Linked DNA regions of Homo sapiens: regions 1, 3, 4, 5, 6 and 7 are each reported to be linked to region 2. Evidence: microRNA targets listed by miRTarBase, many of them from high-throughput screens and not tested one by one. Region 2 holds a microRNA gene; each other region holds the end of a gene's coding sequence. Distances are between the middles of the regions.

What was found. Region 2 holds the annotated microRNA hsa-miR-548az-3p (AAAAACUGCAAUCACUUUUGC, at 1,078-1,098, opposite strand). A microRNA usually pairs through its seed, bases 2 to 8, with sites in the 3' UTR of a target mRNA and lowers its output. Matches are read on the target gene's strand: a 7mer-m8 pairs with bases 2 to 8, a 7mer-A1 pairs with bases 2 to 7 and ends in A, and an 8mer does both.
Region 1: miRTarBase lists ST6GAL2 as a target of hsa-miR-548az-3p. Seed matches in the 3' UTR shown: 7mer-A1 at 2,368-2,374.
Region 3: miRTarBase lists LMLN as a target of hsa-miR-548az-3p. Seed matches in the 3' UTR shown: 7mer-m8 at 1,234-1,240 and 8mer at 115-122.
Region 4: miRTarBase lists TNFRSF10D as a target of hsa-miR-548az-3p. Seed matches in the 3' UTR shown: 7mer-A1 at 1,204-1,210.
Region 5: miRTarBase lists ATP6V1G3 as a target of hsa-miR-548az-3p. Seed matches in the 3' UTR shown: 7mer-m8 at 2,929-2,935.
Region 6: miRTarBase lists SCIN as a target of hsa-miR-548az-3p. The part of its 3' UTR that is shown has no 7-base or 8-base seed match.
Region 7: the mRNA of CYB5B is a reported target of hsa-miR-548az-3p. Seed matches in the 3' UTR shown: 7mer-A1 at 737-743.

The regions. Positions count from the first base shown.
Region 1 is chr2:106,803,803-106,807,377 of GRCh38, reverse strand. ST6GAL2 (ST6 beta-galactoside alpha-2,6-sialyltransferase 2) reads left to right here. Exons shown (of 6, transcript NM_001142351.2): 6 at 429-3,575. The coding sequence ends at 700. Among named protein-coding and RNA genes, the nearest start is that of ST6GAL2, 81 kb to the left of the region's middle.
Region 2 is chr8:119,322,751-119,326,325 of GRCh38, reverse strand. MIR548AZ (microRNA 548az) reads right to left here and starts at 1,155; the gene lies at 1,061-1,155.
Region 3 is chr3:198,037,747-198,041,321 of GRCh38, reverse strand. It overlaps LMLN (leishmanolysin like peptidase), which reads right to left. Exons shown (of 17, transcript NM_001136049.3): 17 at 1-2,755. The coding sequence ends at 2,655. LMLN-AS1 (LMLN antisense RNA 1) reads left to right here and starts at 1,855. Exons shown (of 4, transcript NR_046669.1): 1 at 1,855-1,873; 2 at 2,098-2,175; 3 at 2,464-2,574; 4 at 2,659-3,001.
Region 4 is chr8:23,134,813-23,138,387 of GRCh38, forward strand. TNFRSF10D (TNF receptor superfamily member 10d) reads right to left here. Exons shown (of 9, transcript NM_003840.5): 8 at 3,376-3,448; 9 at 776-3,191. The coding sequence ends at 3,058. Among named protein-coding and RNA genes, the nearest start is that of TNFRSF10D, 27 kb to the right of the region's middle.
Region 5 is chr1:198,520,446-198,523,913 of GRCh38, forward strand. It overlaps ATP6V1G3 (ATPase H+ transporting V1 subunit G3), which reads right to left. Exons shown (of 3, transcript NM_001376861.1): 3 at 2,777-3,119. The coding sequence ends at 2,946. Among named protein-coding and RNA genes, the nearest start is that of ATP6V1G3, 18 kb to the right of the region's middle.
Region 6 is chr7:12,652,129-12,655,703 of GRCh38, reverse strand. It overlaps SCIN (scinderin), which reads right to left. Exons shown (of 16, transcript NM_001112706.3): 16 at 1-3,116. The coding sequence ends at 2,989. Among named protein-coding and RNA genes, the nearest start is that of ARL4A, 34 kb to the left of the region's middle.
Region 7 is chr16:69,462,169-69,465,168 of GRCh38, forward strand. It overlaps CYB5B (cytochrome b5 type B), which reads left to right. Exons shown (of 5, transcript NM_030579.3): 5 at 262-3,000. The coding sequence ends at 352. Among named protein-coding and RNA genes, the nearest start is that of CYB5B, 39 kb to the left of the region's middle.

The DNA.
Region 1 (3,575 bases), not on the chromosome of region 2:
TTTAGTTTTTATGGCATTTGTTTCTTTGGAACATAACTGTCCCATCATTGCAAACCAGATGGGACATGTGTATAGAATGTGATACAGGAAACTCTGATTTGGGGGGTTGCAAATCTGTCCTTCACTAGCGTGTGGTTCCCTCAAGTTCACTGACTTCTTTTCATCTCTCCTTACCAGGCCCACAGTGATAAATTAAATGAGCGAATAGATATATATATATATAGTGTTACATTTTAATATGCCCCCATACTCCATGAACTGCATACACACCACTTAATGGAAGTTATAACATTGCAAATGCAACAACAACAAAAAAGTAAGTGTCTCTTGCCACAGTCATATCCCATCACCACCACCCCTCCCCCAAAAAACTCATCCCTCTCACATGGAGTTGTTCATTAGGTTCTAATTTTTGGTTTTCATGTCAGGAATCCTCATAATGATGTCCATGTGCAGAGAGGTGCACGTGTATGAATATATCCCATCCGTGCGGCAGACGGAGCTGTGCCACTACCACGAGCTGTACTACGACGCAGCCTGCACCCTCGGGGCGTACCACCCACTACTCTATGAGAAGCTCCTGGTGCAGCGCCTGAACATGGGCACGCAGGGGGATTTGCATCGCAAGGGCAAGGTGGTTCTTCCCGGCTTCCAGGCGGTGCACTGCCCTGCACCAAGTCCAGTCATTCCACACTCTTAAAAAGGGTTTCTTGGGAATCAATGTGCAATAAGGTACTACTGTTGTACTCAAAGTCACAAAAGAATACTTGAAGATAGATTTTAGACAGTGTAGTTTTGAGTCTTTAAACAGTAATTTAGTGGTGGTCATGATAATCCTTCTCTTTCTAAGCCATTGAGTATGTATTACTGCTTTGAACATAGAAATGGTTTTTTTAAAAAAATAAGGCTCAAGAAAGATGCAAAACCAAGGATAGCTAGAAAGAAAACACATGTATGACCATGGGTATGATACCTCCAGAAATGTTAACAACTTATTCTTCTGCCATGAGTACCCCTCATCAGGGTTGGTTTCAATGACAGGTTTTGGTGATGTTCCTGACCATATGAAGTGGTTTATGTTTAGAAACATTCAAATTGAGGGACATCATTTACAGCATCGAGTGTGTCAGTTATACATGCATTCATCATTAAATATCCTAGGTTTTATGACAGACATTGAAATTATCACTCAGATGTGTTTAACAGCAAAAAATTCCCAGCACATCCTGGCAAAGGCTTTTATTTCCAACCGTTGCATTCTTCATCTCTGCCTCCCATTGCCCACTGAATGCTTTGCTTTCTGTGCATCAAGACAGAGTTCTAAAACCAGAAAACATCCATCTTGAAAGGTCCAAGAAAAAGCCAAATTCCATATAGCACCACAGAGGAGGCCCTTTGTTTCCCTGCAGTATTTCAACCAGGAACATTAGTATCACATCCACCAGGAGGCACATCACTGGCAAGTAACATAGAATCACAGGGCTGCAGGTGCCCCTGGACACTCCCCGGTTCTGGCTTTTCTGCCTTGTACCTCCTCACCTGCAGATCTACCCTGCAGCTTTTGCATAGTCAGTGACACACTTGACAATTGGCACAGCTGTGCTGGGGAAGACGGGAGACACCTTGCTCCTTCCAAACTAGAAGGAAAGATTTTGGAGCCATCACCCTGTGCTTCTAGGGATGCACGCCTGTCTTTATTATACAGGTTTCTTGCAGGTTTTTATCAGCCAGTGGGAACTCCACAGTGATGAGCACTGAATCTTCACTAAATCTTCCTACAGACATTTAGGAATCCAGTCCTTGCTTTTGCAGATATGTTTTATGTCAGCAGCATGACAAAGCCATATAATTAAATAATTTATGTGAAAGCATTGCTTATTAACAAGGAAAATATGTAGATGCTTCAGAGGGAAAGGCAGCTAGAGGGAAATTTTCATCCCAATATGTTAGCTATATTCAGGGTTGATTTTTTCTTTAATCTCAACTGTCACTGATACATTGAAAAATTTTTGCTATGAATATAGTGAAACAGAAACATTCTGTAATACCTTAATTAAACATGCTATTATTTCAATGTATAACCAAAACATATCTCCATGGTACAGTTAAGACTTGTTGCAATGACAATAGCAGCTTAATTAAATGCGTTCTCCCTTGCAAAATGTATGAATGTCAGGAGAGTTTAGTGGAAAAGTTTTCTTTGTTTCAGGATTGGTTTCTTCTAGACTGTTCTCAGGACTACTTTCTTGAGCAAGAATGGCTTACAGAGACTGAAGGCTTCTGTTTGGTTAGTCTATTCAGCAGATATGGAGCTGGAAAACAAGACATCTCCTATAGCTTGCTATAATAGTGAAGGAGAAATTGGAAAGTTTTAATCACAATAATATCCAATAAAAGCCCATTTTGAGAGTTTTGTTATTAAGTCAATGAGAAGGGATAGGTAACTTTGTCCTATATATTAACTTATGTCTAAATAGACATGGTTAAGCCATGTTCCTTTCTAATTTCTTTTCTTTTCTTTTTTTTTTTTTTTTTTGAGACAGTCTCTCGCTCTGTCGCCCAGGCTAGAGTGCAGTGGTGCGATCTTGGTTCACTGCCAGCTCTGCCTCCCACGTTCACACCATTCTCCTGCCTCAGCCTCCTGAGTAGCTGGGGACTACAGGCACCCGCCACCACGCCCAGCTAATTTTTTGTATTTTTAGTAGAGACAGGGTTTCACCGTGTTAGCCAGGGTGGTCTCGATCTCCTGACCTTGTGATCTGCCTGCCTCGGCCTCCCAAAGTGATGGGATTATAGGCGTGAGCCACCACCGCGCCCGGTCATTCCTTTCTAATTTCTTGAAAAAACTTTGTCTTGTCCTTATGTTTACATGTGTGTAATAATTTCAGCAACTCTGGAATGTGGGTGAGGTGGCTGTGGTGGATGAATATTACTCCCTACCCTCCTTGGATCTTTCTAGATCTTCCAGACCATTAAATGCCCCTGAAGCTCCTTTTATAGTTTTGCAAGTGGATTTACTTGTAGACATCCTTACTATCCAGCATAATCCCCCTTGGCTGACATGAGAACTTGGTTAGAGGAGAATTTATTGGGGTCAGTGTAAATATTCAAGTTCAAAAGCCTCAGAACCCAACACTTTAAAGATTTTTAAATGGAATTTTGTCGTAGTCATTGTACTTTTAAAATAGTACTTTCAGTTTCATTGAGGTTACAAGAAAGACTGAAGAGTACAAAGGAAATTTAGTTACAATTTTTGCATTTATTATGGCCTTAAAGACTCTTGGGAATCAGGCTCTGTTCAACAGTCAATAAATGTAATACACACATTAATATAGTACTGACTGGGCGTTCTTCTATAAAAGTTTAAGTTCTTTGGCTTCTAAGAAAATGTTGGGCAGTTACAGTTAACTTGATGACTACTTCTAGTATTAGCCAAATGGGTCCTAAGTGGCAGCATTTTGCCAGACATTGACTAAATCCTTACATGCCACATTTACTGAATTCCAATAAACATATAGTTCTTCTGTGGAGTAGTTAACAGTAAGTGGCAGCTCACTGAATTTCTCCCAGGTTCT
Region 2 (3,575 bases):
CATTAACTTTCTTGTCAAGAATCTTGCTTTTTGATTACTTACTGTTGTGCAAGCATGCTACATTGCAGACCCTTCTAAAAAAGCCCATGAAACACTGTTGGGTAGGGTCCACGAAATTACACATTTTAGCTGAATGTCTAGCCAAGGGTTAAAGTCAATATTCAGCCTAAGTTGAAGTTGAAGATGAATATCACTTCATGGCATGAACTTCTGGGAAAAAAGAATAAATATTAAAATTTCCACATTTTATTTTAATTTTGTCATTAAAAATGCTCAAAGTCAAAGTGTATAATTTGACATTACTGTACAACACAATGATTTCCCAGCCTTCTCAGTGGAGGTCAATACACTAAACCTGTGTAATCCCAATACAGTAGACTCTCACTTTCAATTTAGATCAAAGGAGGAGCAAGCTATTCTGTTTTGAGCTCTGCCATTGTAAATATTGATGGTGAAATGGACCCTAAGATAAGATTTTCTGGGAAGAATTGCAACATATAAAGCATATATGGATATTAATTTTTACTCCAAGTCAATTTTGAATATATTTGAAAGTGAATGTTTAGGTAGTAATACTACACTTTGAATGATATGCAATCCTTCTAACTAATATTTTTATGGTGATAATAATTTTGGTTGTCTCATCCTTGATCATCAGCAAGTTTAGAGTTCCGGAGATGATAAGTAAGTCTTTCACTATTCTTCCAAAGAGCAAGCTTGAATCCCAAAACAAATTTTGTAAAATTTCCACGTCAAATCAAATTCTGGTACATTTGTGTTGTGGGTAATTTCTTATTGCATAGTATCCATACTCTCAACACCTTCAATATCATTTACTTTGTTGATCAGCATATGCAGTACCAAAGGAACTTAAAGTTGCCAAAGCACACAGGCCGAGTCTGTCTTCCATATTCTTATTATTGGTTAGTTGTTTTATATGAATGATTATAAGATGGCAGTTTTGATAGACCAGTCCCATGCTACACCACTGAAAGTGCTCTTGCCAGAGTCACCAATAATTTCTTTAACTGATCCTCAACTGACTTGATCTCTGTGCAGCAAATTTATTAGGTTGGTGCAAAAGTGATTGCAGTTTTTGCCATTAAAAGTAACAGCAAAAACCACAATCACTTTTGCACCAACCTAATACAATCTTGAATATTCCCTACTTTGTGAAATATTTTTCCCTATTATTATTACATTTTTTAAACTTTCTCTAATTACTCTGCTTTTTCCCAGTTTGTTTTGAATTTCCCTGCTTTCTGCTAATCTCTTGTATATGAATTTTCTTCCAGATTCTAGCCTAGATAGAATTTTTATTTTTTTGCTTCACGTAGCCTCTCTTTGAGGATTATATTTTTCATACTCACAAATTCAATTATATAATTTCAATCATGATTCTCAAATCTATATCTTCAGCCAAGATATTTCTCCAGAGCTTCAGATCTAATTTGTTAGTCACCTAGTAGATATCACCACATAAAATCCTATAAATATCCCCCTTTAGTGTCCTTTTTATCAGTGAAATTACCACCATCTACCTAATTATAAAAGCCAAATACCCAATAATTTTCCATGACTTGCCCTTTTCTCATTTACTTTTTATATGTAATCAGTTATCAAGCCTTGTGTTTCTATTTGATAAAATGGCTCTCCTTTTATTTTTTGCTTACCTTCATCTTTTGTTATTATCATAGTTCAGGCAATCATCTTTTGTCTTTAGTCTCAAAACACCTTCCTTTCTGGTCTTCCGTATTTTGAATTCATTACTTCCAAAAATGTTTCTATTGGAGCCAGAGGGATGGTTCCAAAAATCCAGTCAGATCATAGCATTATCCTGATTAAATATCATCCCCCATTACATTTAGAATAATACTTTGGGGGTTATTTATAAACTGCCTTCATTTAGCCACTCAATCCCATCTTTTTTCCTTCTCTCTTGTTTTCTCTGCTCCAAACATTCTGAAATTTTCTTTCTTTCTCTGAATAAATCATGATTATTCTTACCTCTAGGCCTTTGCACAAATAAAAGTTTTGATGAAGAAGTTTCAAGTTAATGGTTTGTGAATGTAAGACAATTCTATTTTTTTTTTCAATAACTGTTGCCAGGTTTGCTTTGTTGAATTCCTTCCCTGCTGGGCAACAAGAAACAGTGATATCTCAGTTTGACAAATAACTTTTTATTTACTTCTGATTAAAAATAGTCTTAATTTGGGGTAGTAAAACTTTCCTTTTTTAAAAGCTTGTGCAGGGCTTCTGTATAGTATACGTATTGAACAGGGTTTATGTGTCGATATGGATAGGGTTGGATGTGTTGTTGGCTTTCTCCCTCTCTTTATCTTTTTCCCAGTGCCTGTTGTATTGATGATGATGTAAAGGGGTGTGTGCATGTTGTGGGTGGGGGGGTGTGAATGTGTGTACGTGTGTGCATGTGTGGATGTCTATGTAGTATGAAGGGGGAGATGGTAGAGGAGTGGGATGTCTTTGCTTATGCTGTATTAGTGATAGTGAGGTGTTATGGTTGAATCACCTAATACACACTGTTTCCTTATGTCTGGTGTTGTTACTTGGTCTACACTGAGAGAAGTCAGATGCCAGGTTTAGAGTTATAATAAGATTGATCTGATTTTTGGAAATATCCTTCTGGCTAAGTTGAAACCCATTAGGAGTAATCAATTAGAAATATAGGCAGTCTTCTAAGGCTGACAAAAACAATAAATTGGGGAAGGACTCCGTATTCAATAAATGGTGCTAGGATAACTGTCTAATCATATGCAGAAGAATGAAACTGGACCCTTTCATCATATACACAAATCAGCTACAAATGGGTTAAAGATTTTAATGTAAGACCTCAAACTATAAAAATCCCAGAAGAAAACCTAGGGAATACCCTCTTGACATCAGCCTTGGCAAAGAATTTATGGCCAAGTCCCCAAAAGCAATTGCAGCAAAAACAAAAATTGTTAAGTGGGACCTAATTAAACTGAAGAGCTCTCCACAGAAAAAGAAACCATCAACTGAGTAAACAGACAACATATAGAATGGGAGATAATATTCCCAAGCCATGCATCTGACAAAGGTCTAATATCCAGTCTATAAGGAATTTAAACAAATCAACAAGCAAAAACCAAATAACCCTATTTAAAAATAGACAAAGAACGTGAACAGACACTTCTCAATAGAAGACAAGTGGCCAACAAACATGAAAAAATGCTCACCATCACTAATCATGAGAGAAATACAAAGCAAAACCATGAGATACCATCTCACACCAGTCAGAACAGCTATCATTAAAAAGTCAAAAAACAGCATGTGCTGATGAGGCTGTGGAGAAAAGGTTACACTTAGACACAGTTAGTGGGAATGTAAGTTAGTTTAGCCACTGTGGAAAGCAGTTTGGTGATTTCTCGAAGAACTTAGAACTACTATTTGACCCAGTAATCCTATTACTGGGTATATACTCTTAAGGAATACAGGTCATTCTACCAAAAAGAGACATGCACTCATGTGTTCACCATACTATTCACAATAGCAAAGACATGGAATCAACCTAGGTGCCCATGAGTGGTGGGCTG
Region 3 (3,575 bases), not on the chromosome of region 2:
AATTTGGATTCTGGATTTTTGGATTAGGAATGCTCAACCTGTATTAGCTTCTTTTTAGTTAAGTTGACTATGTTTGAGATTCCCAGCTTTTCACAATGACAAATACCTCCCATTTAAAACTGCATGCAAATACATACTTTAAATTTATGCATTTGAAAAAAAAGCGACTTTCCTCTGTGCTGGGGTTGCTGTTGGCTCTAGTGCCAAATAATCAGAATTAATTCTTAGTAATTATGTTGCTTTGCTCACTTAGCATAATTTCTTCAATGGAGTACTGAATAGCTATATGCTGAATGGACGAAAAGCAGGGAAGGACGAGGAAAGGAGGAACAGAAGGAGTCTGTCCGAGGGTTGTGGTTACAATGCCATGGAGGAATAGGAGGAGTCTGTCCGAGGGTTGTGGTTACAATGCCATGGAGGAATAGGAGTCTGTCCGAGGGTTGTGGTTACAATGCCATGGAGGAATAGGAGGAGTCTGTCCGAGGGTTGTGGTTACAATGCCATGGAGGAATAGGAGGAGTCTGTCCGAGGGTTGTGGTTACAATGCCATGGAGGAATAGGAGGAGTCTGTCCGAGGGTTGTGGTTACAATGCCATGGAGGAGTAGGAGGAGTCTGTCCGAGGGTTGTGGTTACAATGCCATGGAGGAGTAGGAGGAGTCTGTCCGAGGGTTGTGGTTACAATGCCATGGAGGAGTAGGAGGAGTCTGTCCGAGGGTTGTGGTTACAATGCCATGGAGGAATAGGAGGAGTCTGTCCGAGGGTTGTGGTTACAATGCCATGGAGGAATAGGAGGAGTCTGTCCGAGGGTTGTGGTTAGAATGCCATAGGACTTCATTAGCTTGAGAGAAAGAATGGGCATCGCCTATCATTCATGAATATATTTTTTCTTTTTTCTTTTCATATTCTTGTTAAACCTCATCTAGCCATTAAAAATTACTAAATGGGGCTGGTAAGCTCTAGTACCAGTGTAAAATTGCTTCTGGGGACCGGAATCTATGTAGTAACAGGAGGAGTGTCAAATGCAGAAGGTAAAGGATATTTAAAGCGAAGGCAATCTTCCAGCTTCTGTGGACTGAGTCTTACTTAAAAGTGGTACAGTGGACGCTACTGGATAGGCTCTACACCAAACTTATACCTTGCTATTAGTACACAATTCAGACCATCCTTCTTAAACATAAAACCATTTTCAGATGTTAGAAATTCTTCTGCAACAATTTCTTAACCCATTTTAAAAAACTGCATACCCGTCTTTACCAGAATTTCTTTTTATCTTCATCGGTCACAAAGGAATAGTTGTGTTTTTGTTGTTTCACAGTTGTCTTAAGTATTATCTAAAACAATACAATTATTTTTTTTCTGTTTGCATGTCTTCCATGTTTTTACAGGGCAGAGTATTTTACTCTCTCGGCTTCCACATTTTTTCATGTCATTATTAAACTCATGGAGAATACAACCAGAAGCTGAGCTCTGAAGAGGGATGAATACAGAGGGCTACCAGCACAGTGATAGCAGTTCTGGAAGCTGGGCTCTGAGGAGGGATGAATAGAGGGCTACCAGCACACTGACAGCAGTTCTGCCGTAAACTGCCACATAGCTGGCAAAAAGGGCAAGCACGGTTAAATCATAAGATTTAATGAAACATTATTTAAAAAAATTCTTTAGAACAATGGGAACAGTGAATTAAGTTTACTATATACCAGCCATTAATTTTTTTTTTTTTAAGATACAGGGTCTAACTCTATCGTGCAGGCTGGAATACAGTGGTGCAATCATAGCTCACTGCAGCCTTGAACTCCTGGGCTCAAGCGATCCTCCTGCCTCAGCCTCCCAAGTAGCTGGAACCATGCCTGGCTGCCATTAAATTTAAAATAGGTATAATAATGATATGTAGAAATCCCAATTCCATTATTTTCTATAACTCAAAGGACAATTTATACTTTTGAGGACAAGATCTCCAATTCTAATCTTGCAATAATTGGCTGTTGTTTAAGTGACTGCAGTATATGGATGATGAACTTTCCCATTGTTGTATGTTAATAAAAATGTTGAGGTATGTAATCACTCTGAAAATTCCACCCATTATCCTATTTTCAAAGGAAAACTTTGGGAAGATTACAAACCCTGAAAAATGAAGACTTGGTGGCTTGCAGTTCCTTCTCCTTCTCCAAGATGAGGTGGTTGGGTTGCTGAAGAAGGTGGTTGGTTTGCTGATGAAGGTGGTTGGGTTGCAGATGAAGGTGTTGAGTTGCTGATGAAAGTGGTTGGGTTGCAGATGAAAGTGGTTGGTTTGCTGATGAGGTGGTTGGGTTGCTGATGAAGGTGGCTGGGTTGCTGATGAGGTGGTTGGGTTGCTGATGAAGGTGGCTGGGTTGCTGACGAGGTGGTTGGGTTGCTGACGAGGTGGTTGGGTTGCTGACGAGGTGGTTGGGTTGCTGATGAAGGTGGTTGGGTTGCTGATGAAGGTGGTTGGGTTGCTGATGAGGACAGGCTGCTGTGAAGTTCTGCTTCAAGGTCTGATGGTCGTCAATTCTTCCAAGCCAAAGCCAGGAATGCCACTTCTACCATCTGCATAGGTTGGCACTCACTCAAACTTTGTGCTTTGTTCACAAGAACATAACATAAAAGAATATCTTGAAGATCCACTTTTCCATTCCTAGTGCCATATACACAGAAGAAATCCAGCCAGCAGAGGAAACAGATTGCCTAGCAGAAGCCAGAGGGTGACCACCAGGCTCGAGGAACAGGAACAAAGATCTAGAGTTGAAAACAAAAAACTGACTTTCTATAAACAATTTTGGGATAAATCATACCAATTAAATATTGACAGATGAAGAGCAGTGATTATTAAAAAGTAAACAAGGACCACCTTGAGAGCTAAATCAAGAGCAAAACCCAGGTATAAAAAAGTTTTTGTTTCTTTTTTAATGGAGGAAAAATATATATGGAGGAAGAAATGATGTATCCACTATGTCAAGGTTAAAAAATGGTATCCAAAAAAAATTGCCTTGGGGTAGTACCCCAGCAAAGATAAAGATCTTGGTTATTCTGAGATGGGGTGAAGAACTTTCTTCTTTTATTCTTTCTTTGTACCTTCTAAGTAGGGTGACCATATAATTTATCAACACAAACTAGTACATTTTGAGAATGCAAGGGTGAGTACTATTAATAATGACAACAGGCAGACGGACTGTGAGGATGCAAGGGAGAGGACCATCAATAATGACAACAGGCAGACGGACTGTGAGGAGGCAAGGGAGAGGAGCATCAATAACGACAACAGGCAGACAGACTGTGAGGAGGCAAGGGACAGGACCAGCAATAACGACAATAGGCAGACGGACTGTGAGGATGCAAGCGAGAGGACTATTAATAATGACAACAGGCATATGGATGGTCTCAGGCAGACCAGAACATATGGTCCCCTATTTCTAAATATCTACCCATACATTCATATCACCAATCAATCAGACTTGATTTTGAAACAGCAGAAGATTCTACAGATTTTGGGCACTAGAGGTATATTTTAATTCAGCCATGAGGTGTCCTCATAGGTTAAAACAGTTCTCATAATGGA
Region 4 (3,575 bases), 96 Mb from region 2:
TCAGGAGTCACCTTGCCTGAGAAAGATGTTCTAGCTGAGAGGGCCTGGCCATGGGGTGGGCTCCAGGAAAACGCTGGTTAGGTCTGGGATAGAGCAAACTTGAAACAAAGACAACCCCTGCCATGGCTGTGTGGCGCCAAGACTTGGAGATCAGGGGTTAAATCCTCATAGACAGTAGGCGGTGGCAACACAAGCAGCTCTAACTCTGGGGGAAGCCATGTTGCCCAAGCCCAGGCCCCTCCATGCTCAGCCTCCATGCAGCTCACCCAGCCCAGGGTTCCAAGTGAGGCCATGGGCAGTGCAGGCGGGAAGCAGGAGGTAGCATGGAGCAGCCGCAGCCCCACCTCCCCTCTAGGGAAGGCAGACAGCATGGGAGCACGCCTGGGCCTCCTGGGAGCTGTGGGCCAGAGGGAGAGCAGGTCCTCCAGCGCAAGGGGAGTGGGAAATGGCTCTCACAGGTGCCTGCAGGGCTGAGCAACCTGGGTCCACTGATGGGGATACAGGGAAGGGCTGCTGTCCCTCTCCCCAGAGGGAGGAGCAGACAGGAGAGAAACAGGGAGGAGGCGCGAATTCCAGTAGCCAAGAACCTGGTCCTTTAAAATCCAGGGAGTCATAGGCAGGAAACTCCCCCCACACCCCCACCGCCAGGCGGGCCAAGCCTGAAGGCAGAGAAGGGACAAGTAAGGAGGCCCAGCAGGAACGAAGCCCTGGCCTCCTGTCACTCAGAGCTGTGTCACAGCAGGAGAGGAGGATGGAAATAAACGAACACCACACCTTTTTAATATGAGGTTTCATATTTATTTTGGTCATAAACATATGAGTATTTCATATATAACCAGGTGTTATGTGCTATTTGGCCCGGGTATAAAGCAAAACCTAAACAAATCAACCAACGCCAAAAAACCCCAACAATTTCATGTTGTCAGGAAGCTTATGTTAAAGGAATAAGCTTAAACACTGATAAGGCTGGTAGTCTAGATGCATCTTCAAGGAAGGCCTCTGAGGAAGGGACAAAGGAGCTGGGACCGGACTGGCTCTCTCTGAGCTTTGAGACCAAGTCTCCTGCACAGAAGGCCCAGCAAAGGCAAAGACTAGGAGGCAGCAGCACCCTGTGTCATCCAGAAGTGCAGGGGACAAGGTGTGGGACGCCAGATGGAAGTGGGAGAGGATGGAAGTGCGAAGACCGGAAAGGCCATCCCCTCCTAAAACTCCATGGACACAACAATCTGAATGTGCGAACTTCAGGCAGTTCTAACTTTGTCCCAGCCAAACCAGTCCCGGAACAAAACACACAATGCCTTGAGATGGAAAAGACTGAAACCCCTAGAATGACTATATCCGTAATTTATCCTACCACGACTGGGCTACTGTGGAGAAGAGTTTGCTGGAAAGAAGCTAAAACGATTACTGAGGTTTTTAAATAAAATAATGGAACGTGACACAAGGACAAATGTGTCAGCCATTTTAGATCCTGTTGTCACAGTGTTTAAGAATTGATATCTCTGAGATGAGTCAGATGCTTACAGAGGGGCCAAGCTCCTCAAACAGGGAATCTGTACCCTAAAACGCAGCTCAGGAATCTCTGCCCTAAAAGGCATCCCAGGGACTCAGTTCACAGACCACCAGAAGCGAGAGGGGCCCATCCATGCCTGAGTCGGCAACCATTTCACACCATTCCCAAGCACCGTCCACTCTTCCCTCTTGATGCCATGGCAGATGCCGGGGCAGATAAACACCTGCTCTGCCCTGAGCCCAAATGAGGCTCAAGATTCACTAACGTTCAACTGTAATGGCGCTTGAAAGAGAAGCTCTTCGCAGTCTCGGATCTAACTTAATTCTCACTGTCCTCATCTGCTGTGGACAAGTCGGAAGATGCAGTCCCATGACTGTCCCAGCACGACAAACCAGACACATGGCTTCCCAAAGATACCAGGCTCTTCAAAATCCTGGGCATATGTAAACATCTACTTATAAATAAATAAATAAATATTTATTTATAAATAAATATGGCTATATACCTCTAAAATTAACAAGTAAGACAAGCTGCCCCTTGAGAAGCTGCCAGCCATCAAACCCTGGTCCAGTCTCAGGGCGCAGGAGGGAGAACTGGAATGCAGTAAGTGCCTCCCACAGAGGGAGGATTTCTCCCTCCGTCACTAGTTATATTTTTAGTCATTTTTGACTGCTGATTTGTATCCAGGCAACCCATGTAAACAGCCTAATAAGTGCATTTCCTAAAGTTTTTCCATGTTTACATCATTATACAAAAATCGGAAAAGAGATGTACAGCCTACAGTAGTAAGCAATATAAATGTTTCTCTAATTAAGGTGGGGGTAAGCCCCAATAATCCTATCTTAAAGCTCAAAACTCTAAGTCGAACCCTCGTAAGTCCATATGCTCATGACTTAGCATAGGGCTACGTCTTGATAATCTCATCATTAAGTCAAAAATATCCGAAACTGAAAATACAGGTAATAACAAGATAATCCCGTTCTAAAGTTAAAAAACTATAAGGCAAAGCATTGTGGCTGTGCGGCATCTGTAGTTAGATGTCATTAAATGCACACACCAGTAGAGATGGAGCTTGCAATATAAGAAGCAGAAAAAAAGACTTGTCTCATGATGAAGAACTGCAAAGAATGACATCCTAAAACCACTTTTTTTCTTTTTAAATTGAGATGGAGTTTCACTGTGTTGATGAGGCTGGTCTCAAACTCCCGAGCTCAAGCAATCCACCTGCCTCAGCCTATCAAAGTGCTGGGATTACAGGCATGAGCCACCGCATGTGGCCTAAAACGACCCTTAATACACAATCGTATAACTATGCAGCCAAGAATCTGATATAAATTTCTCCCGTTTGCTTATCACACGCAGTATTTCATAAAAATTACTCCAAGTGCGTTAACAAAGTTCTAGGACCATTGGTAAGCTGCCCCATATTGGATAGTAGAGTTTGTTGGGGCATGGGTCAAGTACTGGACTGTTTCTTCCAGGCTGCTTCCCTTTGTAGGAGAAAAGGTAAATGAGGGAAGCTCTGGTTTCCTGAAGAGATTCTTTCACAGGCAGGACGTAGCAGAGCCTGCCTCATCTTCTTCATAAAAGAGCTTTTCGGAGCCCACCAGTTGGTCCTGAATTGTTTCCTTTGCATGTCCTTCTTCCAGTGTTGCCGAGGCATCCAGCAAGGTGCTGACTGAGAAGAGAGAAGAGATTTAGGGTCTCAATGCTCCAAGGACGATCAGCACAGGATCGACATGGGGCCCCCTGCTTCCAGCAGTGAAACCTCCAGAAGAGCCCTCTCAGCTATAGGGACAGCAGTTAGGACACCGTCCCTATTCCCTGTCCTCCTGCTGCGTCTCAAGGCACAAAACACTTACTGTCAGCGGAGTCAGCGTCATTCACTGGAACCAGCAGCCTCCTCCTCTGACACCCTTCAGCTTCTGCCTGTTCCTGTAACACACAGTGGGGAATGCTCTGGTCAGAGTCAGGAGTCCTGCAGTCTAGTACTGACCCTGACCACTAGCCAGCAAGAGACCTGCAGCGCTTTCCCTCTTGGGTCTCCATGGAGATGGAGACA
Region 5 (3,468 bases), not on the chromosome of region 2:
TAATTTTTCATTTTGTAGTTTCTGATTGTGCAAAGGATCAAAACAAGGGTAAAGACCAATTAAAAACATGCTAACACTATTCTATTTCTGTGTGAAGATCTATCGGAACAGAAAAAGCCTTTTAGTATAAGTATACGTACAAAAAAGTCAACTTTTTTTCTGTGACTGAGAAAGCTCTCACAGATAAGTGAGCTAGCTCTGAAATACATAAAACCTTTTCATATGTAAATAAAGTAAAACCTGGCAGCTCTACCATCTGTGAAGGTGTGAGAGTTCTTAGAAAATGACTCATTCAGTTAGGCAAAGATGTGAAACCATATTTGAATGTAAAAATATGCAAACTACACAGAATCTAGGATATTGGGGGCAGCAACAGCACATACTCTTAACAATACAGTGTTTAGAATAAACGTGAGATTGTTGAGAAATTGACAAATACTACAGTAGTGAATGAAAAAACTAAAAGTAATAAATACTGCTTTTGAAAAATTGGTCTGACTTAGTATGTAAAAATAAGTGTTAAAGGGCCTACAGAGATCATTTATTTCAACACCATTTTCAGATTACAGCACTAAAAAAGAATCGTAGGCCCAGAGAGGTTGAGTGAGTTGCCAATAGGACATAGAAAGCTTGTGGCGCTGGCAGGACTGGATGTACAGTGTGCTGATGCCTAAGTCTCATCTCTTTCTTCTAGACCTGGCTCCTCTTTACTTCTGAGAAAAATCCTCTACTGACTTTAATGTGTTTCTATAGTATTTAGGGCCTAAAAGATATCCTTTCTCTTGTGCTGGCTCAGGAATTTATTATTAACTTGAGTGTTCCATATAACATATTCAAGCTTTCACATCCAGAAAACTGGCGTCTTGATGGTTTTCATGAGACAAGACAGAAAACTGCATCTTATGATATAAGGCAAATCACAATGCTATCTTTTTCAGAATTATCTTTTCACGTGATAACTCCCAAAATGTGCAATTTTACTCATTATTTTATTTATCTAAGCTTTGCAGAATAGAGTAATTGAATTCTCCAAATCTGTGTTGAGTAGAAATCCTCCAACACTGTCCTAATGTCAGGGAGACACAACTTTAATTGATGCCTTCTCCTCCACCCCCCTCAAAAAATGGGAGCCAGTGTTCCTAGGAATATTTGATATCTTTCTCTTCTTTAATTGGCAATCAGTTCTCATTCTAATAAATGGGGAAATATACCACATAAAACCAATCAACTGGTTTGGTTTTCCTTGCCCCCAAAGTTGGGAAAATGGAGAAACAAATAGAATTCAAATTTTGCTCCATTTACCTAACATGCATATAAAATTGACTATTTCCGAGGTACTAAGATATGTGGTAAAATTTTAACTTTTTCTCCTAAAAAGAAACAATGATACTAGTGATCTAAAACAGGGGTCCCCAGTGCCTGGGCCACAGACTGGTACCTGTCTGTGGCTTGTTAGGAACCGGGCCACACAGCAGAAGGTGAGTGGTAGTTGAGCAAGCATTACCACCTGAGCATGGCCTCCTGTCAAATCAGCAGCGGCATTAGATTATCATAGGAGCGCGAATCCTATTGTGAACTGCACATGTGAGGGATTTAGGTTGCATGTCCCTTATGAGACTCTAATGCCTGATGATCTGAGGTGGAACAATTTCATCCCAAAACTATCTTACCCCACTACCCCTCCATTCTTGGAAAAATTGTCTTCCACGAAACTGGTCCCTGGTGCTAAAAAGGTTGGGGACCACTGATCTAAAACAATGATCAATTAAAACCATTTCAGTTTATGATTTTAATTCCAGTCTAAACAAAAGTTAATTATTGTTACCAAACTATACATATAATCAGAGATTCATATAATTGAAGATTATATGAATAGTTTGGTGACAATAATTAACTTTTGTTTAGACTGGAATTAAAATTTGTCTGCATATATTACTGGAAAATCAAAGACTTTATAGCACCCATGCTTCTTACTAATGCAAATATAGGAGCTGTGCAGGTAAGCAGTTTGGTAAGAAGTAAAGGGTGTGAACATTGGAGTCACATTGCCCAGTTCAAAGCTCAGTGCTGCCACTGTTATCCAAACAACTCCAGATAAGTTCCTTCATCTTTGCATCTCATTTTGTAAAACAAGAGCACTAATACTGCTTACAAGGTAGGATTGAGATGATATATACATTGCACTAACAAAATACTTAGTATTTAACAAGAGTTTAGCTTAGCTGTAACTAGGAGACTGGGCTAGTGGCACACTAACCTAGTATATCTCCTGGGAGTTTTCTTTGTATTTCTTTTTTTTTTTTTTCAAAGCTCCAAAATCTATGTTATTAGCTTATTTATCATTTACTTTTTTCTTTTAAAAATAATATCTGTTTAGTTGAGGTCAGACAGACAGAATGATTATAAACCCCATCTATGTTTAAAAGTGGCTATATAACCCATCATTCTTTGTCTCTATCTCTCTGTTTTACTGGTTTCCCATTGATTACTGAATTAAATAAGACCCTTGACATGTTCATTTTTAGATCTGTTGAAGAGTCATAATTATATCTTGCTTAAAGATTATCTTTTAGCAAATTACCATTTAATACAATTAAGAGCACATTTTCTAAATCGATGAAAAGGAGAAGAAATAAAAAACCCATGCCCACTAAAAAGCTGTCATGACCATGTTTTTCTTTCAAGTGTTAAAAAACATGTTACTATTTTGCATTCTTGACTTACTCCAAGTTAAGTGACAAGGTCATAATTATTACTAGAAAAGATATAGCAACAGTTGTATTTTGTTTTGTTTAATTCAGTGCCGATGTATGAGTTATGTCACATTTCCTGTAAATGTAAATTTAAGGTTCTCATTTCAAATTTCTCAACATAAAAATACGAAGCCATAAGCAACCAGGTGGCACTCACACACCTTTTTTTTTCTTGAAAACTGTGATGTACATTTAGTTGGTGGCTCTGTAGTTCACATGGATTTCTGGTTTCATGTCACAGACCATGCTCAAGAGCTGGTTCATCACACTTTCCATATACTTATTGTAGTGTCCATTAAGTTCTTGTATCTTCCCTAGTGTTTGTTCTTCTATTTCATCTGAGAGATTATTCTGAGAGCCCATTATCTACCAAAACAAAACAGACAGAATTCACATCATAATACAATTGTTTTACAAGTTAAATTTGTCCTAGCCTGTTTACTGATGATTGTCCTACAATGCACAATTATGTACTCCTTTTCTAGATTTTTTCAGAGAACCAACAAGATCATCAATGCCATGAGTGGGAAGGATGAACTTTCATAAAATATTGAAACTGGTCATAGCAGATTACTTTCACTTTTAACCAACCTCCACATGGTACAAATTGAATACACATTTATAATCATTAAACCATGCCCAGAAGTTCTTTTCCATCACATTTTTCATGTATTTATGACAGTTTCCATTTAGTTCCCATATATTCCCTATTGTT
Region 6 (3,575 bases), not on the chromosome of region 2:
TACAAAAGTAATACTGTGCTATGGATCAAAAAGTTTTGACCAGTTTATACATCTATTAACAGTGTATGGGTGAACCTGTAACCCTACATTTTGATGACCACTAACATTTTAATATTTTAACATTTGCTAATCTGGTAGATAGATAAAAGTATGATTATTTTATTGTGAATTTATTTAATTAAGAGTGTCTTAGAACATCTTTTCATTATTTACTGGTCATTTTCATTCTTTTCTGTGAACTTCTATTCATGTCTTTTGGCCATTTTTCCATTGGGTTGTTGACTCATTGATTTGTAAGAGTTTCTTTTCAGTGAAAGGAATTCCTTAAGTAGCTATAACATTAGCTGTATGTATTACATATTAATTTCTAAGTTACTCATCTGTTTTGGGTACTAGATACAGTTGATTTATCATATCTGTGGGTTCTACATCTGCGGATCAAAACTATTTGGGGAAAAACAATAAAATAATACAACAATACAAAAGTAATGCAAATTAAAAAACCAATATAGTATAACAACTGTTTACACAGCGTTTACACTGTATTAGGTATTATAAGTAACGCAGAGATGACTTAGAGTATACAGGAGAATGGTATAGGTTTTATGCAAATACTATGCCGTTTTATATAAGGGACTTGAGCATTCAAGGATGTTGGTATCCATGGGGTTCCTCGAGCCAATCTCCCGCGGATACTGAAGAAAAACCGTATATCATATTTTCATGTAGTGAATGTATCATATTTTTAATTTTATGCTTCATGAGTACATGCATCTTTGCCGTGATGCATTCAGAAATTATGCTTATGTTCTTCTTTTTCCATCCTTTGGGCAGGTTAAAACCCTGCAACAGAACTGAATAATCATTTTAGGCTCTCAGCAACTTTTATTCTGCCTTATCATCTTGCTGCTGATCTCATTTTTGATATTGCCATTCAATAAATATTAACTGAGACCCTACTATATGCCTCGGCCTGTGCTATAAATTGGAGATGAGAAAAACCACTGGCTAAACTAGAGAAACATCGTAAAATACAGTGTACCCTAAGCCACTCACCTTGACCTTTACTAATTTTGTGAAAAAGTACTACTTATTAAATCATTTTATTCTCATCATCCTTCAAAAAATATTCAGCTTGACCCAGAAGATATTTATAAATATTTTTAAAAATTATTTTTCACTCAATTACATTCCTAGAAATGTTAAATGTCTACTTACATCATTTTTGTTGCATGCAGGACTAGCACTATATTTATTAGTACAGGTTACACTGCCATAGCAAGAAAACGCCTTTTTAGGTAAATTTTCCTTTAGGCAAATGTCAGAATTGGGTCACATGGTCATAATCAAGTTGAAGTAAGGCTGAGAAATCTCATGCCTGCCTGGACGGCCACATTATCTGCTAAAATATCAGTGAATTCTATGATTAAAAGAAAATAGAGATATTCAATACTAAGGGACAGCAGCTTCTACCATAGTCCATTTGTGTGGTAAGTCAGTTGTCTCTTTAGTTTTTTCATTCCACATGAAGGATGAGAAAAATTCATGTGGGATGAATTGTTGGACCCTACATTGTTCATCCTTTAGGGCCCAACAATTCTGAGCTTTTGGCTAAGAATCTAGAATCTCTACATGAGGCAAAGTTCTTTCCATGGGTTCTAACGTAGCTTCTTCTTTTTCAATGACCTATATAGATTAGTAGATAATGCAACTGCCACTCAGTGTATCAGTATATACTGATATACAATGGTATATTGGAAATAAAATAGAATGAAATAATAGAATAGAATAGAATGGAATGGAATAGAATCAGGGTAACTGCGATAAAAATTATTACTTAGAAAAGGGAAGAATGGAAAACATAAAAACTCACTTTTCTGTAGCTTTGCTGAAATCTTGCAGGACAAAAATTGCTAAGATTCTCTAGTGGCTACCTGCCAGTAAGTAACTTGATATCGTTAACTTACTTGAACTTGGCTCTGCTCCCTGGGATACTCCCCTGTGCATTGTCTTTTTGATCTCCTGTGATATTAAACATGTACTGTACATGTACATGTATCTAAGTGGATAACAATACAATTCATTTTGTCATGAAAGAGCTGTGTTTTCAAAGGCTTTTAATAAGGTTAAAAAAAAGATAAAATTCCTCTTAGAAAATAACACTTAGCAGTTAATGACATCAAAGTCATATTGACTAAAGAAGGAAAATAGCAACCAATTGTTAAAGCCACCTTAACATAAACCTTATTGCAAGTATACACATCTTTTGAACACAATCTATAGAAAAGAGAATAACTTCCAAGGCATTACAACTTTTTCTCTGGCATGTTAAAAAACAACTCTGACTAATGGCTAATGCATTATAAAATTTCCTATCTGACAAATCTTTCTAGATTATGCATAGTATTTTACTTTTGAAAGGTCATAAAAAAGATATAAATCAGTTTCCATAAGAGCTAATATTGGCCCATAACGAAAGTTTCCTTCAGGTTATTTTAATGTATTAACGTAAGAAAACTCCAGGTGAAGAAGAATTTCAAGCCAAAACTAAGCATTAAAAAATAGGCGTTTGGTTGAGGTTAATTTTTTTTTTTTTTTTTTTTGAGACAGAGTCTCTGTTGCCCAGGCTGGAGTGTGGTGGCGCAATCCTGGCTCACTGCAACCTCAGCCTCCTGGGTTCAAGCAATTTTCCTGTCTCAGCCTTCCAAGTAGCAGGGACTACAGGCGTGCACCACCACGCGCAGCTAATTTTTTTGTATTTTTAGTAGAGGCGAGGTTTCGCCATGTTGGCCAGGCTGGTCTCGAAATCCTGACCCCAGTGATCCGCCTACCTCATCCTCTCAAAGTGCTGGGATTACAGGTGTGAGCCACCGCGCCCAGCCTTAATTTTCAAAAGACAAATAAGCAAAAAGCTTTTCCCGTTCCTCTCCCAAAACAGCAATGAGATAACTGCCTTGTAATGTTTGTTTGCTTTTTACAAATACCAATTTACCACTTGCTGGAATCCCAGCCCAGGAACCAGCCTGTGAATGTGGGTGGCTCATGGCCCTGTTTTATGATGACAATTGGTGTCCTCTTGTCTCTTCCAGAAGGGTCTGTCTCAAGGTACATTTTGGCTAAAAAAAGTTGTAAAGACATATAAATTCAGTTAGTTTGGGTTAAACTAAAGTAACTGCAGATTGAAAATTCTTCGAATAAAAGTAATGAATTAAATTTCCAGAAGAACAAATAAATATTGGCTACATTGAAAATGAAAATTCTTCGAATACAATTCTTCAAATCAAAGTAATAAATTTCCATTGACCAGGTAGACAAATACAATTTCTTTTTGATTTCTCTCGTCTGCCATGAAAGGCAACATGTGAATCTCATTAATGCCTGAAAGAATTCCAAGTTTTATGGAATTGTCCTTGTGGCATAATTATTGTTATACGTTTCAGTAAAAGGAAAATTGTGCCAGAAAGAACAGCATAGTCAAAAGGAAGTTTAAAAAATCTGGCTTATCACAGTCATGGAGGTTTTACTCTTATAATAAAACAAGGGTTGAAATTAATTTAAGTTTTCAGATTAAATTG
Region 7 (3,000 bases), not on the chromosome of region 2:
GTAGAAACACATATAGAGGCATTTAAAGACATCTTATTTGATATCATACTATTGGTTGTTTTTAACCTTTTAAAAAATTACTTTGTAATATTGTCACTCCAATTCAAATATTTTTCCCCAACTACTTTGTGATAAAAGCAGTTAAATTTCCCAAAGTAAATAAAAACTCCTTGCCTATATAAAAACATGTGAAAGCTGAAAGATAGTGAACATTTGGCTTAAAATATTAACAACTTTATTGCTTTCTCCCCCTATTCCTAGTTGCTGGGCATATTGGATTTTACCCATCATAGGCGCTGTTCTCTTAGGTTTCCTGTACCGCTACTACACATCGGAAAGCAAATCCTCCTGAGGAGGCCTTGCTGAAGTTAGAAAGTGCATCCACTTTGGGGCGAAAACTAGAGACTTGCTTGGGGGCTGCAGAAGTGCCCTCTCCTCGAATCCTGCCAGTTGCATTCTTCCCCCTTGGAGCCAAGACGATTGGCCAGACATCACCTCAGATCTGAGACCAGCGTCTTCCATCTCTCAGAGCCTTACTCCCAAAGTACCTGCTCACTGTTCCGTGTTGAACAATTGCCGGTGTTTCCTCTCTTCACTGGTTTCCATGAGTACCCTTATATTTCACAACTTTCTGTTCATAAGTTATAGTGACATTGCTCTTTGGTAAAAATGCCTGCTTTCCAATACTTTGATTGCATATTAGACATTCTTAACAGGGCGGCAGTCTAGTGTTGAAAGTTTTATTTTTCCATTTTTCTTTTAAGTAAATTTTTTTTAAAAAATTCTGATTTAGGGCTAGGTGTGGTGGCTCAGGCCTGTAATCCTGGCACTTTGGGAGGCCAAGGTGGGAAGATCGCTTGAGGCCAAGAGTTCAAGACCAGCCTGGGCAACATAGCGAGACCCCTATCTGTATTAAAAAAAAATCTGATTTAATTCTTTTATTTATCATAAGGGGTTTAATTCCTGAAGTAAAGGTTTGCACCTATTAAACTTAAAACTGCCAAATGATTTTTGTTCTTTTATGTGCGTGATAAAAATACAAAGAATGGTGTGGCCACCTCCTCCCTTTCAAGCTAGGGCAGCAGGTAGCTCTTCCCAGCCCCTGAGCCCAGCCCCTTCCCAAGTGGTGCCGGACAAAAAACTACATGGCCCTTTCGTGTCTTGGGGGTGGAAAGGTAGGGATGAATTGGGGTGATAGAACCCTGGTGAATTCAGAGTAATCTTTCTTTAGAAAACTGGTGTTTTCTAAAGAAACAGGATAGGAGTTTAGAGAAGGCACCAAAGCTTTCACTTTGGTTTGGCACCAGTTTCTAACCATCTGTTTTTTCTACCCTAGCTATCTTTTATTGGTAAAATATAAATGTATAATTATGTTTGTAGAGCTTTACCAAGGAGTTTCCCTCCTTTTTTGTTTGTTGATTAGCAAATTTTTGATTCTCCATTTTCCAAAAGTAAGAGACTCCAGCATGGCCTTCTGTTTGCCCCGCAGTAAAGTAACTTCCATATAAAATGGTATTTGAAAGTGAGAGTTCATGACAACAGACCGTTTTCCATTTCATCTGTATTTTATCTCCGTGACTCCAACTTGTGGGTTTGTTCTGTTTTTCCATGAGAATAAAATACTGGCGGTTTTTTTCTCAGATGTGTGTTCATTGAGAAGTAGGTTACTAGAATTATGTTACTGTGTCTTATTGGTTCAATGATGATTTCTCTGGCATATTAGACTTTTATTTTTTCCCCCATGGAAGCACTTGAGGAAATAAATAGTACACTGGCTGTTTTCTGCCAGCAACTGTGGTGATTTTTCTCCCTGTCCTTTGAGAATTGCTAGTCTGCTTCTGAGCCATTGTCATATCCAGCAGGGAGCAGCTTGGTTCAAGAAGGACCATAGAGGCTGCTCAGCATCTCCTCCCTCCCTCCCAGCTTGCCAGGGATTTGATGAGACAGGAAACTGCCCAGCAAACCAGGGACTGCCCATGTAAACTATTTAAGAAAAAGTTCAACCCAGGTCTTGTATCCTGTGATTTAGCAGTTGAATGAATACAGAATTCATCAAAATAATATTAACCTTGTACTTGCACACTTGGATATATTTGGGAGTAATTTTAGGAGATTTCTGGCTGACTTTTATTATCAGGGATATGGGTTTAGTAAAGCTTTTATCTTTAGAAAAATGTTTGTATGCATTATAAGATGCTACTTTTAAGACAATATTGAAAAAAACTTTGGTTATTATTTAACAAAAGTGGTATGACTTGATGCTTCTCTATTTAAAGGCAAGGAAGGATTGGTATATGATTGCCTGTAATAAATAAATTGCGTGATTATTGGAGTACATTGGGGTAAAAGTAAAGAACAGAGGAGTATTGAGGAGCTTGAAAGGGAACATTCAAACTAAAGCCAAGCCTGAAGATAACTTGAATCAGTTGTAAAAGTGTGTTGGCAATGTCCGAAATTGAATGAAAAACATCTGGCTTATAAGAAATGTTAAAGAACTACCATCTTAAGTAAAATTGGTGTTTTTGTTATTTTTAAGGTAAATGCCAATGCAAAAGGTATGTTTTTCTACTTCACATTGGTTTTCTTTTCCTGTTTACATCTGCACTTGTTTTTTGCTGAGAGCCAGAGGAAAAGATAATTAGACTTTGTCTCTTCCACCCATGAAATCCCCCAGTACCCAGGGCTTCTTCTGAACTACTGCCGATGTGATGTCACTTTGTATCTGGAAAATCACTTTGGGGTCCATTTACTGTTATTTTGTTGCCTACAAAAACAGCCAGGTGAAAGCTAAATCTTGTGTGAGAGTTTGCAGAGGTTTTTCTATACAATAAAGTAGTATAGCACACTAGCCAAATCCATCCAAAAGGACCTTTTTTTTAGGAAGTAGACTTGAATTCACAAAACAGTCTTGACATGGGTAGCTGGTGAAAAACCCTCTGGAGAGCAAGTGGAGCCAGTCCCCATTGGCTGACAGTGCCACCTGGAGCTGGTCTCTGGGGT